Linked DNA regions of Homo sapiens. The protein of the gene in region 1 purifies or fractionates together with the protein of each later gene. This does not show direct contact. Each region holds a gene or a part of one and is shown on either strand. Other genes may lie near its edges.

The links.
Region 2: the proteins of SERPINB6 (region 1) and PLAT purify together in Homo sapiens (affinity purification with mass spectrometry; 2 studies listed by BioGRID and IntAct, with this or other methods). This does not show direct contact.

Annotation. Positions count from the first base shown.
Region 1 is NC_000006.12:2,961,547-2,968,580, forward strand, and holds part of SERPINB6 (serpin B6), read right to left. Parts: intron 5,045-7,034; coding exon of another isoform or gene 4,854-5,044; intron 585-4,853; exon of another isoform or gene 1-584.
Region 2 is NC_000008.11:42,176,564-42,183,597, forward strand, and holds part of PLAT (tissue-type plasminogen activator isoform 1 preproprotein), read right to left. Parts: intron 6,328-7,034; coding exon 6,156-6,327; intron 5,460-6,155; coding exon 5,374-5,459; intron 4,123-5,373; coding exon 3,927-4,122; intron 3,816-3,926; coding exon 3,679-3,815; intron 3,504-3,678; coding exon 3,363-3,503; intron 2,501-3,362; coding exon 2,334-2,500; intron 1-2,333. UniProt on the Homo sapiens protein: Converts the abundant, but inactive, zymogen plasminogen to plasmin by hydrolyzing a single Arg-Val bond in plasminogen.

The DNA of each region.
Region 1 (7,034 bases):
TAAAACAGGGAAACTTCTAGGTTAAGAATAAGAAAAGAGGAGATGCCCCAAAGCAAGAAGCACAGCCTGTGAAGTCCGTGTCTCAGGACTCAAAGCCAGCAGACACCCTGACACGTGGGGTTTTCCCTGGCCTGGGGACATGGACTTCTGTCTTTGTCCCCAAGAGGGCTCAGCCCACGTGGAGAGGCTGCCAGGTGAGATGGCTCCTCCATAAACCAAAAAAAAAAGACAGAGGTTAAGTACCATGTCAGCTGGCCAGGGGAAGGTCCCACATGCTCCCCCAACCCCATCCTAGACTATTCTACCGTCAGCACACGTTTTCCCCTCAAATGCTGAAGGACTCTTACGCTTTTTTTTTTGTAGAGACAAGGTTCTTGCCACCTTGCCCAGGCTGCTCTCCAACGCCTGGCCTCAAGTGATCTTCCTGCCTCAGCCTCCCAAGGTGCTGAGATTACAGCCATGCACCACGCCCAGCCTAAAGGACTTTTAATTCAAATGGAAATGTCCACCTAAGAAAGGCTAATAATAAAACACTCCGTCTCCGGTAATATCCCGGAGAATCTGTTTCAGGCGCTGATCTTTATATCAGTAACTTCAACAAAGCAAAGCCACCTTTGTCTGAAGACACGCCCACTGGGGAGGTGCCTGTCTGGCCAGCCCAGGTTACACCATCTGGGGCAGAGGAGAAGTCGGTGCACATGAGTTTCACTGTGTCAGGGGATTTAATTTGAAATACTGAACTGGAGAAACCAAAGCAGGATATTCGGAGGAGAAGTCAGTGCACATGAGTTTTACTGTGTCAGGGGATTTAATCTGAAACACTGAACTGGAGAAACCAGACCAGGATATTCGGAGGAGATGGCACGAGTCAGGAGGAAGACAGGGTCTCTAGTCCTGGCTCTGGTACCCTGGGCAAATCACTGGACTCCTGATACCAGTTTCCTCTCTGTATGAGGAAAAGCATATACCAGATAATCTGGGTTCCCTTCCATCTCTAACATTCAATAATTGTTAATACCAAATGCAGAAGGAAGAGCAAAAATGTAGCTCAATTTTCAAAGCCCACAGTGAGGTCAGTAATGATATTCCATTTCTTAGTTGAAAACACTGCTGACAGCCGTGAAAGGTAAAATTCTATCTATGCCTTACATAAAAATTGCTGAGCAACAAAGAAACAATAAATCAAGGATGTCCTAGAGATTTAATTTTCTTAGCAGAAACTATGTTAGTCATTAAATAACTGAATATCCTACTCCTGATAAACACCCTTACGTCAAACAGCAAGTGGTACTTCCCATGCTTCCTTAACAAGGTAAGAATTACCTACTTCAGCAGCCACCAGCACAGCTGATGATAGAACATTAGTCCCTTAACTCCCCAAACAGGAACAAGATAAAAATATCTGTCGTCCCAACCTTGTGTAACTTTGTTCAGATAGTTCTGGCAAAGGCAAATACAACTCATGAAACATAATGAGAAAGGAGATTGTCAGAAAGGAGACAAAATGAGCACAGTTAGCAAACAATTTGATGGTCTACCCAAAAAGCAGCCAGAATCAGTAAAATACTCTTAAAACTGAAAAATAATGGAGTAACTGGGCTACTAAAAAAATAGGAAAAACAGACCCCAGTAGAAACACGTGCAAAGGACATTAACAAATTTACCCCCAAAAAAGAAAGACAATAGCTAATAATTATATTTAAAAGTTTCAACTTCAGAAAAAAATATCACTTTTTTGATATATACTATGTGCTAGGTCCACACTGAAAGACCCTTACCCTCTGAGATAGCTGCTGAGAACACCTACGTTTTATAAGCAAAGAAATCGGGCCTTAGCTCTTTAAGTACCATGTCTCCAGAGAACCCAGGGCAACAATGGCAGAATGACGGCTGGAAGCCAGGACCGCATGGCTCTGTAGTTCACTCTCTTAACACCATGGTGCACAGCCTTCCCAAAAAGCAATGGTGGAGAGTACATTAAAGATGCCTTTTCAAACCATGAACCTTGCAAATACAAAAACAATTCATGCTAATACTGACAAAGACAGGCAATCCTTCTCACGCCATGCAAGTAATACGGAGGCAGCAGGGACAGAGCTTGGCCCGTACCCACTCCCGTATTTTCCATACATCCCCCACGCCATCACACCTGCCCACCAGACCATGCAAACCAGGGAGGGAAACAAGATAAGCCATGTTCCACCCCAAATCTTACCCAAGGGAGTTAAGCCTGATGCCCACATGCATACAGGATCAGAACGACGATCCTGACCTCTTGCCTTGTTGTATTACTAAAACCCTCTCCTCAGGGGCTCATCTGCCATGCCCTGATCATGACACATCTGTGCTAACATGATGTTCCCCGGTGCCTGCCACTAGCGTGTGTAATGCTGCTGACACACCTCATGACTATCCATGTCACCCTAAAACACCAGGAACACCTGTCCCGAGGGCCAGCCCGGGAACTCCTGCCCCTGTGCCGCTGCCCTCCTGCTCCAGCATAAGCCCATTATAAAGCCTTGTCTGGGACACTTTCTCTGTCTCATGTCAATTTCCACTGCATGAGAATCTAAGAACCCACGATCAGTAACAATACTGTAAATTGGTACACCAGTATTTCCTGAGTATGATTTAGAATTATGTCAAAAATAAAAGTAAAATACAATAAAGTGAAGGAAGAAAAGAAAATGTCATGGAAACATTCATACTATCTGAATTAAAAATTCCACTTCTAGGAATTTCACTGAAGGTAAAACTCACAGGTTTTGTACATAATAAAACATTATGTACAACATTATGGGATATAAATAGGGCTAATAATAATAAAAATCACAGTAATGACATGGGAATACACAAGATTACATTAAAAAAGATATAAAACTATACATACAATTTAAATTTATCCATGTAAATTAGGAAAAAAGGTAAGTGTAGGCACAATTTACAGACAGAATAGAGGGAAATACTATACACCAAATGTTTCTAACGGTAATTTTTATGTTTTTTGTGTTTTTCTGGATTTTCACATTTTCTATAGCATATAATTTATGGAGGGGGTTGGTTAACTCTTCTTTTTATGAAATTACTATATATACATTCAGTTTAAAAATCAGGTGGTGTTAAAAGAGATGTTATAAAAGACAACAAGCTCCTTCTCAGCCCTCCCAACTCCCCAGAAGCAATCACTTCCAAACCCTTTGCTCTTTCTTCTGGTATTTACCACCATATTTCTACATAACGTGTATACTACTATTTTTGACCTAATAACTTTATCATGTTTTATTTTATGTATGTATTTATTTTTATTAGGGTAGGGGTCTCACGCTGTCGCCCAGGCTGGAATGCAGTTGCATGATCACGGCCCACTGCAGCCTCGAACTCCTGGCCTCAAGCAATCCTTTAGCGTCAGCCTCCTAAAGTGCTGGAACTACAGGCACCCGGCCAAATTCTAGACATTATCTATTGCCTTCCTAATCTAGAGGCCGAGGGCCCGGTCCCGATCCACAGGTTTGCTTTATTATCACTAAATAGCATTCGATGCTAAGCCAGGTGGTGGGATGGGAACCCATTTCCTTTTTATGTAATGCTGATTTGCCTTATATTAATAGTGCCTTTCCCCCCTTTCCTTAGTTTTCTATGTACTATGTATTTTCAAATTCTCCCCAAATGTTCTACAGGTCAGTCAAACCCTTTCAGTACTTTTTTCATATGCTTCGACACAAGGAATAATCTACCAGCTGCATTTTCCTCTCCCTCCGTCTGTCACCATGCTGCTGAGCATGCGCGACTTTCACGCCGAAGAGAAATGTTCATAGACGGGGACAAGTTTCCCTACTATAATACATGGCCAATTTATAGTTTGGCAGGCTGGTCAGACTAATTTTTTTTCTCAAACACAGCACATTGCTTACAGGGCAAAGAAATTATTTTTTCTTATTTAAGTGTTGATGACATATTTTAATATGTCTAATTTTTTAATGCTTTATGCAAACTTACAAATTGCACAAACCTTAGTAGACTTTTGAACTTCTACAAATCTGATAAATCAAGACATATAAATCTAGTAAGCTAGCCTCTCCTAAGACTTTCAAACAGTACAATGATTACAAAACTTATTTCTATACCTGTACTTATGTCTAGCAAAAGTTATTCATTAATATCACAGATTTAATTATTTTATCTTTGTTATATTTTCCTATTCCTTTCCTAAGGTAACACTAATGCTTATTTTAACAGTTTCCTATGGGGAAAATTAATCTTATGGGGTTAAATCCTAAGGGATCATCCCTTTCTGTAAAAACAGGGTGGGGCTCCCTGGTTCATGGTCTTTGTGCATCAAAGCAGTTTCTCAGCACAGGGCACACACTCTTTGATGCCAAGCATATCTGACTAGTTAGGGCAGCTTTGAGCTCCAATCCTGCCTTCACTGAGATTTTATAAGGCCTCAACCAAACACCAAATTTCAGTGTCTTGTAGCCTGATGTCCTTCCTTAAAATGAAATACGGAGTTTTCCTCTATCTGAGTTGCATAGACCAGTGTTGTATGGTATAACTTGGTCTTTTTGTTGAATGTTTAGGCCTTTAAGTTGGTTTTTACAACTACTGTGTTTGTTAGCCCAGGAAGCTATAATAACTAAACTTTTTCCATAGCAATCCTAGACACAGTGCAAACATTACTGAATTCTTTTGTGCCTTTTTAAGGCTCATCTTGTTTGCCTCATCTGAACTTATTAATGAGCTTGGGCTTTTTACAAACAATATATTTCAATTTGCTGATGTTTTTTTTTCTTCTTGTTCTAATTGGCTGGTGGGAATCTCTTTAAATTAGTTACTTTCCCTCCAAACACACTTACTTTATATGCAGGAGTCCCCAGCAGATCCGTCTGTGGTCTGTTAGGAACTGGGCCACGCAGCAGGAGGTGAGCAGCAGGTGAGCGAACATCACCGCCTGAGCTCCACCTCCTGTTAGGTCAGTGGCAGCGTTGGAGTCTTGTAGGAGAGTGAACCTACGGTGAACTGTGCACGTGGTGATCTTGGTTGCATGCTGCGTATGAGAATCGAATGCCTGATGATCTGAGGTGGAACAGTTTTATCTTGAAACCATACCCCCAACTTTATCAGTGGAAAAACTGTCTTCCACAAAACCAGTCTGGTCCCTGGTGCCAAAAAGGTTGGGGACCATTGCTTTAAAGCAACAGCAAAGTCTTACCAAACCATTTTAGATTTTTCTAGTCCAAAGACTAGATATGATAGGTGCACACCACCACGCCCAGTTCATTTTTATTTTTTGTAGAGACAGGGTCTCGCTCGGTGGCCGAGGCTGGTCCCAAACTCCCGGCCTCAAGCTATCTTTCCACGTTGGCTTCCCAAAGTGCTGGGATTATAGGCATGAGCCACCAAGCCTAGCTTGGGAAAAAAATGTAAGGCACTTGCTGATTTCCTCCAGACTGGCTCTTTGTTCTCTTTTTCTGTCAAGTACAAAACTCTTAGACTGATATCATCTGGGACTTCTCACCTTTCTCCAGGCTGTGACACACACAGAAAATGATGTTTGTATGTCACTTTGGGGCCAGGCTACTCACCCCAAAGGTGACCAGTGCAGAGCTCCAGCCACCCAGACTCCTCGAGTTGGAGGGATCTGTTAACCTGCCCAGGGCACAACACCCACACACAAGTTAGAAAGTTCTGCTCTGGAAGACTGAAACTGGACCCCTTCCTTACATACACCATGTACAAAAATCAACTCAAGATGGATTAAAGGCTTAGATGTAAAAGCCAAAACTATAAAAAACCCTGGAAGACAATCTAGGCAATACCATTCTGGACATAGGAACAGGCAAAGATTTCATGACAAAGATGCCAAATGCAATCACAACAAAAGCAAAAATTGACAAATAGGATCTAATTAAACTTAAGCACTCCTGCACAGCAAAAGAAACTATCAACAGAGTAAACAGCCAACCTACGGAATGGGAGAAAATATTCACAAACTATGCATCTGACAAAGGTCAAATATCCAGCATCTATATGGAACTTAAACAAATTTACAAGAAGAAAACAAACAACTCCATTAAAAAGAAGGCAAAGGACATGAACAGACACTTTTCAAAAGAAGACATTCATGCAGCCAACAGCCATAAGAAAAAAGGCTCAGTATCACTGATCATTAGAGAAATGCAAATCAAAACCACAATGAGATACCATCTCACGCCAGTCAGAATGGCTATTATTAAAAAGTCAAAAATTAAGAGATACTGGCAAGGTTGTGGAGAAAAGGGAACACTTACACACTGCTGGTGGGTGTGTAAAACAGTTCAACCATTGGGGAAAGCAGTGTGGCGATTCCTCAGAGCTAAAAACAGAACTACCATTCAACCCAGCAATCCCATTACTGAGTATACAACCAGAGGAGAGAGGAATAGAAATCATTCTCCCATAAAGATACACGCACGCGAATGTTCACCGCAGCACTATTCACAATAGCAAAGACATGGAATCAACCTAAATGCCCATGCATGGCAGATGGGATAAAGAAATTGTGGTACATATACACCATGGAATACTATGCAACCATAAAAAAGAATGAGATCATGTGTTTTGCAGAAACATGGATGGGGCTGGAGGCCATTATCCTTAGCAAACACACGCAGGGAACAGAAAACCAAATACCGCATGTTCTCACTTATGAGTGGAAGCTAAATGATGAGAACGTGGACACAAAGAGGGGAGCAACAAACACTGGGTCCTATCAGAGGGTGGAGGGTGAAGGGTGGGAGGAGGGAGAGGAAAAAATAACTATTGGGTACTAGGCTTAGTACCTGGGGGATGAAATAACCTGCACAACAACCTGCGACATGAGTTTACCTATGTCACAAACCTGCGTATGTATCCTGAACCTAAATAGAGGTTTAAAAGGTTAAAAAAAAAAAGAAGAAATCATATAAATGAATGTTCTCTTCTGACCTTATTCCCTCATTTACACTTTTCATCATGATATTTGATTCCATTTTGCCTTCTATACTAATTCTTTGGAT
Region 2 (7,034 bases), on another chromosome or scaffold:
TGGAAAATGAATGAATACAAAGTGTTATAAAGTAAAAATCTGTCTAGTCTGTGCTAAATACACGAATGCATGATAAACTGTGAGGTGTGGAGGCAGTCAGGGAGCCTGCCCTATTTGTGATTGTTTTTGAACTTCATGGTAGTAAGAGGTGTTCCTTACCATTTTTGCTTTGCAAACATTTATTCCCTGAATTAACCCACCACTATTATGGCCGCCATCATTCACTTATTCTCCAAAAATTGGGTAAATAAATACCATGTTTGTTTTTATTAACCTTTCTTAAATGTTGTATAGCTCACATTTATTTCAATATTGAATGTTAGAAGTGTTTTGGGTCTTTATTTAGAAGTTTGCTGATGTTTTTATGACTAGAAATATTGCCACAAGAACTTCACTCTTCTTTTTTTGTTTTTTTTTGTTTTTTTGTTTTGAGACAGAGTCTCACTCTGTCACCCACCCAGGCTGGAGTGCAGTGGCGCAATCTCAGCTCACTGCACCCTCCACCTCCGGGGTTCAAGCAATTCTCGTGCTTATGGGCACGCACCACCACACCTGGCTAATTTTTGTGTTTTTAGTAGAGGCAGGGTTTCACCATGGTGGCCAGGCTGGTCTCGAACTCCTGACCTCAGGTGATCTGCCTTCCTCAGCCTCTCAAAGTGCTGGGATTACAGGCATGAGCCCCGCACCTGACCAACTCTTGTTTATATCAATTAGCTGGTGGTAAAATTGGTTTTGTTATACGTCATTTCACTTACAGTTGCAGTTTCTAAGAACCTATTTTTTCCAGGCATGCTGTTAAGTGGAGACTTACTGAAGAGTGGGTAGATTGTATCTCAGTTATCTTGGTCCCATGGAGGATTAGGCTGTATCTATTCTGGTAAAGTAGAGTTAATTACTCAAACGTTTCAGGCCTCAAAAACCCTGGCTTGGCTCCATCACTTACTAGCTGATGGCCTTAGACTAACCATGCTTTGGTTTTCTTATCTGTACCATAGAGATAATATTCATACTACCCATAGAGTGGTTATGGCATTCAGTAGAAGAATGCATGAAAAGCACTGGAAGACATCTAGTAAAACTCTTGGTAATTGTTAGCTGTTCTTATATTGAATTAAAATGATTTGGTTTTGCTTTTAACTAAGCTTGCAGATAGATAATGGTTTCACTTTGGTACAACCTTTTTGTTTCTGGACTGTAAGCTGGTACAGCTGAGGTTGCTGAAGAAACCATTCAAAAAGAAACTAAATCCTGTCAGGGAATCAGAGGGGAAACCGCCGATATGACTGCCTTGCGAAAACAAAGCCCACACATCCTTCAGCACCAGAGCCTGGCCTCACTTCTCTTTGTATCTCTTCTACCCCCAGCCCCTAAAGGAGAGCTTCGCACGCTGCAGGCACTGAAATGTCTGAGGAAGATCAATTCCTTGGCTCTGTGCAGGTCTTAATACCAGCAGGCTGGCCTGTCCTCCCATACCCCAGTATCTGGCTAATCATGAAATATAAGTACTAATTCTGATAAGGATGCCCACACAAAGGACCTCAAATAGTGTGCTTTCCCAGGGTATTAGGGCTGAATGTGAGTTTTGAAAACTTCTTTCTCACATCATCTAGATCCTGCTTCCCAGTAAGTTGCCTTTCTTCCTTCTCCTTCTACAAAGCAGACTCCAATTCTCTAGTGCCAACAGAGGCAAACATTTCTTTCTTTTTTTTTTTTTTTTTTTTTTTGAGATCGAGTTTCGCTCTTGTTGCCCAGGCTGAAGCGCAATGGCGCGATCTCGGCTCACTGCAACCTCTGCCTCCCGGGTTCAAGCGATTCTCCTGCCTCAGCCTCCTGAGTAGCTGGGATTACAGGCATGTGCCACCATGCCAGGCTAATTTTGTATTTTTAGTAGAGATGGGGTTTCTCCATGTTGGTCAGGCTGGTCTCGAACTCCTGACCTCAGGTGAGCCTCCCACCTCAGCCTCCCAAAGTGCTGGGATTACAGGCGTGAACCACCACACCAGGCTGAGGCAAACGTTTCTTAATTGTGTGGCTCTCTCCATCACTTCAATAGTCAATCAATTGCCTGGGCTGAAAGGAAATCCTGTACAGGTGGAGTTGCCTGTGCAGATCCTGGGGAAATTTCCTGCAGTTTAGAATTCTTAGGTTTAGGTGACTTTGATCTTCCTCCAGTTGCTTTATTCTGTGAGGCCCTCATCTAGAATCCCCAGGGGTATCACTAAGAGGAAATCACTCCACTCTGGTGATAACTTTTTTCTTTGGTGAAGAACCTGTTGTCCCAGGGGCATTCTCCCCTGGGTTGTGCCCAGCATGGGCGCGCCACTCCTGGTTACCTGGCAGGCGTCGTGCAAGTTTGCCTGGGGCCCGCCGCTCCGAGTGTCTCCAGCACACAGCATGTTGTCGGTGACTGTTCTGTTAAGTAAATGTTGTGATGTGCAGCGGCTGGATGGGTACAGTCTGACATGAGCCTCCTTCAGCCGCTCCGAATAGAAAGGAGACACTGAAAGGGGAGAACCATCATATGGTTTTAGGGAAAGTTATTTATAAACGTTTTTGAAAGAGAAAGCCAAATTTTCCAATAATAGCTAACATTGATCAAGATTCAACATGTATTAGGTCGAATCCTATGACACTGCTGGTATTTTATCGTTTTGACCCACAAAAACAGCAGGATTCCGGGATTGAACCCACAGCCTCTCCGTAGTGGCACTGCTGATGCTTCGGACCAGGGAGGTCCCTGTTGTGGGGGATGGGGACAGTCCCGAGCCCTGCAGTGTGCAGCATCCCTGGCTGCACTCACTGAAGGCCGGCGTTAACCCTCACCCTAAACTGTAACAACCAAAAACGTCTCCAGACCTCGCCAAACGTTTCCTGGGGGACAAAATCACCCCAGCTGACATCCATTCGTTCAATATTATCTCATTTAACCCTCCTAATCTAATTAGGGAGATAGTTCTATCTCCACTTTACCAACGAGGAAACTGAGGCTGGGAGCAGTTCAAAATAAAAATCCATGTCCACGGTCACACAGCTCAGCAAGTGGGATTTGAAATCGGGTCTTTGTAACTCCAGCTTCCCAGAACCCACACGCTTAGCGACTGTACTCCACTTCCTACTCAGAACCTTCCCAACACCTGCAGCACTTCGAGGCCCTCATACTGTTGTGTCCTTTCCTGGCCTGCAGTGTCCCTGTGAGGCAGAGACAGCAGAGACGGGCCCCCACGACACAGGGAGACGGGACTGGCGTCAGTGCCTGACCCGGGGCTGGAACTTCGGTCTCCTGACCCCATTTTCCTCTGGTGGACCGCAGCCTCCCCTGCTGTCCCGCAGACAGGATGGGGCCGAGACTTCCTTCCACTTACAGGCCTCATGCTTGCCGTAGCCGGAGAGCTCACACTCCGTCCAGTCCGGCAGCTGCAGGTCCGCCGGGGGAAGGCACACAGTGCGGACCACGCTGCTCTCCTGGGCACAGCGGGACGAATCCGATTTCAGCTGCAGCAGCGCTGGGAGGGAGAAAGGAGGAGTGAGCTGGCGTGAGGGCCGCGTCCCCGGGAGGGGAGGAACACGCAGGAGGGGCAGGGGCTGGAGGAGGAGGCCCGTGTGTGTAAACATAGGTGAGTGCATGTGGGTGTGTTGTGTGATCTGTATGAACTGGAGCCGGGAATGACGAGCTCTTACCAATGTCATTGTCGTAAGTGTCATCATCGAATTCCTTATGGACAATGTATTTTTCGACTTCAAATTTCTGCTCCTCCTCGCCAGGGACCACCCGGTATGTTCTGCCCAAGATCACCGTCAGGTGGTGGGGCGGAAACCTGGTGGAGAAACAGCCTTAGAATGCTTTTTTTGCTGTGGGATTTCCCCTAAAGGGCTTGGTTTCTAGGCGTTAGAGGGTGGAAAAACCAACTGGGTTTCCGAGCCCCTACCTCTCCTGGAAGCAGTGGGCGGCAGAGAGAATCCAGCAGGAGCTGATGAGTATGCCCCCGCACAGGAACCGCTCTCCGGGCGACCTCCTGTGCTTGGCAAAGATGGCAGCCTGCCAGGGGTGGGAGGCGATGTCGGCGAAGAGCCCTCCTTTGATGCGAAACTGAGGCTGGCTGTACTGTCTCAGGCCGCAGGTGGCTGGGGAGGAAAGGACGAGGAGGCAGTCAGTCCCACAGGCCTCCTGCACGTGTGTAGGTAGAGTGAGGAGGCCATCAGCATGGCTGTAAAACCACAACTTTCACTTGGTGGGATCAGCATGCCGAATGTTGTCCATACATTCTCTTTAGTTCCCACAGCGATAAGTTTCAGGAGGCGGAGACGTTTTTGCCCAAGGTTGCAATGGCACCTGGATTAGTTCCCAAGTATGTTTGACTCCAAAACTGGGGATCTGCCATCCTTCATTCCTTCTAATGTTTTCCTACAGCCATTTCCTGGCCTAAGAAATGAAGAATTGCAGCTTCCTTCTGTGGAATGTCTGCTCATTTCTTTTCCATCTGTCCAACCTTACCCATGCTTCAAGGCCCAGGTGCAATCCTGCCTCCTCGCAAAGCTTTCCTGACGTCCCCACCTGCTCAGCTCTGAGGAGCTTAGGGACACGGACCACTGAGGACTCACACTAATGCCCTTGGGTGTGAGTTAGCTGGTGGTCTGTGTCTCATCGTCCCAGTTGGACTTGTGTTCCTTGGGGAACATTCTGGCTGATCTGTGTTCACAGGAGGTGATTAATAACCTACTCTCTGGCCATTTCCAAACTAAAGTTTCATTTTTTAGCAATATGCACCAACTTGAATCTCCTATCTCTCACCCACATCATGAGCCAGCTCCCCTGTGTGAAATAGGTCAACAGGAAACGTGGAAGATCTCACAGTGGAAGTACATGCCATTGGGGTCAGAGGGCATGAGGGCAGGCCCTAGCTTTACCTCCCGGTGCCCAGCGAGCTTGGGCAGGCCACCTGGCGTCTGGGAGACTGCTTCCTACTCAGTAAACTGGAGGTAGGAAGACCACCTCCACCACGCTGTTGGACAAATGTGGTGAAGGCACTTTATTATCTAAGGAGCCATGCATGCGAGGCCTCCTCCTCATTCCCCATTACTCTCAGCAACACCAATAGAGGCGTCTAGAGAGAGCCGGGTAGAGCCTACTGACTTCTCAGAGAGGTTGCTGTGTTCTTTTCTTTCTTCTTGCCCCTCCCCACCACCCCCATGCATGGGTCATGGACACCCGCCCACCCACCGTGGCTTCAGTCATGGAAGCCCCCTCCCCACCCAGCCTGGAAGTCTGGTAGGCACACAGTCTGCACCAGACAGCCATGAAGGCCTAGAAAGTGGCGAGGAGATGGTGAAGAAGGGAGACCAGGTGCAGGGAGGCAGCCGGGGCCCAGCCCTTACAGCAGGAGGGCACATCACAGTACTCCCACGTCAGCCTGCGGTTCTTCAGCACGTGGCACCAGGGCTTGGCATCCCCATCAGGATTCCTAAATGATAAGAGAGTTTAAGGTTTCCTTTTTATCTTCTTATTTTTTAATTTTTGTAGAGATGGGGTCTTGCCATGTTGCCCAGGCTGGTCTTGAACTCCTGGGCTCAAGCAATCCTCCTGCCTCAGCCTCCCAAAGTGCTGGGATTACAGGCATGCACCACCACACCAGGCCAGGAGTTTAAGATTTTCAATCCCATTTTCAGCCACATCACAGGCCATGTAAGAGTAGAAGGAGACTCAGTCAACCAATGAAAACCACTGAGCTGGGAGGGAGGACACCGAGTTCATCTTGACCTTGCAGCACACCCCCACCCTAGGAGAACTTCTCTTTAACTTTGTTACCCAGTCAGTAATGTAGTGTTCTAATCTCATAGGGTTGTCAGACAGAACTGTGAGCTGTCCTGTTACGGAACTCTTACAAATCATTGCAATAAAGATGTCAGGAGAACAGCTGAGGACTAAATGGTTACAGGCCAGGACCCTTAACTTGGGATTTAGGTTGGAAAACTGGTAGACCTTGCTTTTCACAATATGTGTTATTCTAGCAAGTGAAGAGGTTGGATTAGATAATATCCATGGGTGCTTCCCACGCACTGGGTCTGTCATGCAACTTGAGACATTGGATCTTCCCCCGTCTCACACCCTAATCCCACGTTCTGCCAAGACCTGAACCCCCCACCCCTGTGCTACCTACCGGCAGTAATTATGTTTGCCCAGGCCCAGTGCCTGGGCACTGGGGTTCTGTGCTGTGTAAACCTTGCCTATCAGGATCATGGAATTCCACGGGAGGCAGGAGGCACCCGACTCGGTGAGGCTGTGCGTGCCACGGTAGGCTGACCCATTCCCAAAGTAGCAGTCACTGTTTCCTAGAAGAAAAGAATTCTCAAACTGAAACAAAAACAAATTCTGAAGCACGCAAGTCAGGGCTGGGGCTTGAAGCGGAGCTGCCGGTCGAGGAAGCTGGAGGCCGCTAGCCCGGCACTGAGAAGAGTGTAACACCTCACACTTCCCCTTTTGTTGCCCAGGCTGGAGTGCAATGCGCGATCTTGGCTCACTGCAATCTCCACCTCCTGGGTTCAAGCGATTCTTCTACCTCAGCCTCCCGAGTAGGTGGGGTTACAGGCATGCGCCACCATGCTACGCTAATTTTGTATTTTTAGTTGAGACAGGGTTTCACCATGTTGGCCAGGCTGGTCTTGAACTCCTAACATCAGGTGATCTGCCCGCCTCAGCCTCCCAAAGTGCTGGGAGTACAGGTGTGAGCCAACACGCCCGGCCTGAGCCTTTTTCCCCCTCTTTGAGTCCTTTTACTTAGAGATGGCAAGGGGGTTTCATCTCCACCGGAAGTGGCTCCCTAGATTGCTATGTTGAGAGAGAGTCTGGGGACATCTTCAGGTTCAGCAGGAAGAACCACTTCCATGAGTGGGGGCTGTTTCTGAAGCTGCTTTGAAAGCCAGTAGGGGTTTCCTTGTGTTACTTAACAGGCTGCAGTGAACCAACGTGCTTCAGTGGGGCTGGGGTGGGGGTTATTTCTCGGACTGTGTCTGCCAGTGTCCTGAGGATCTGATGATGG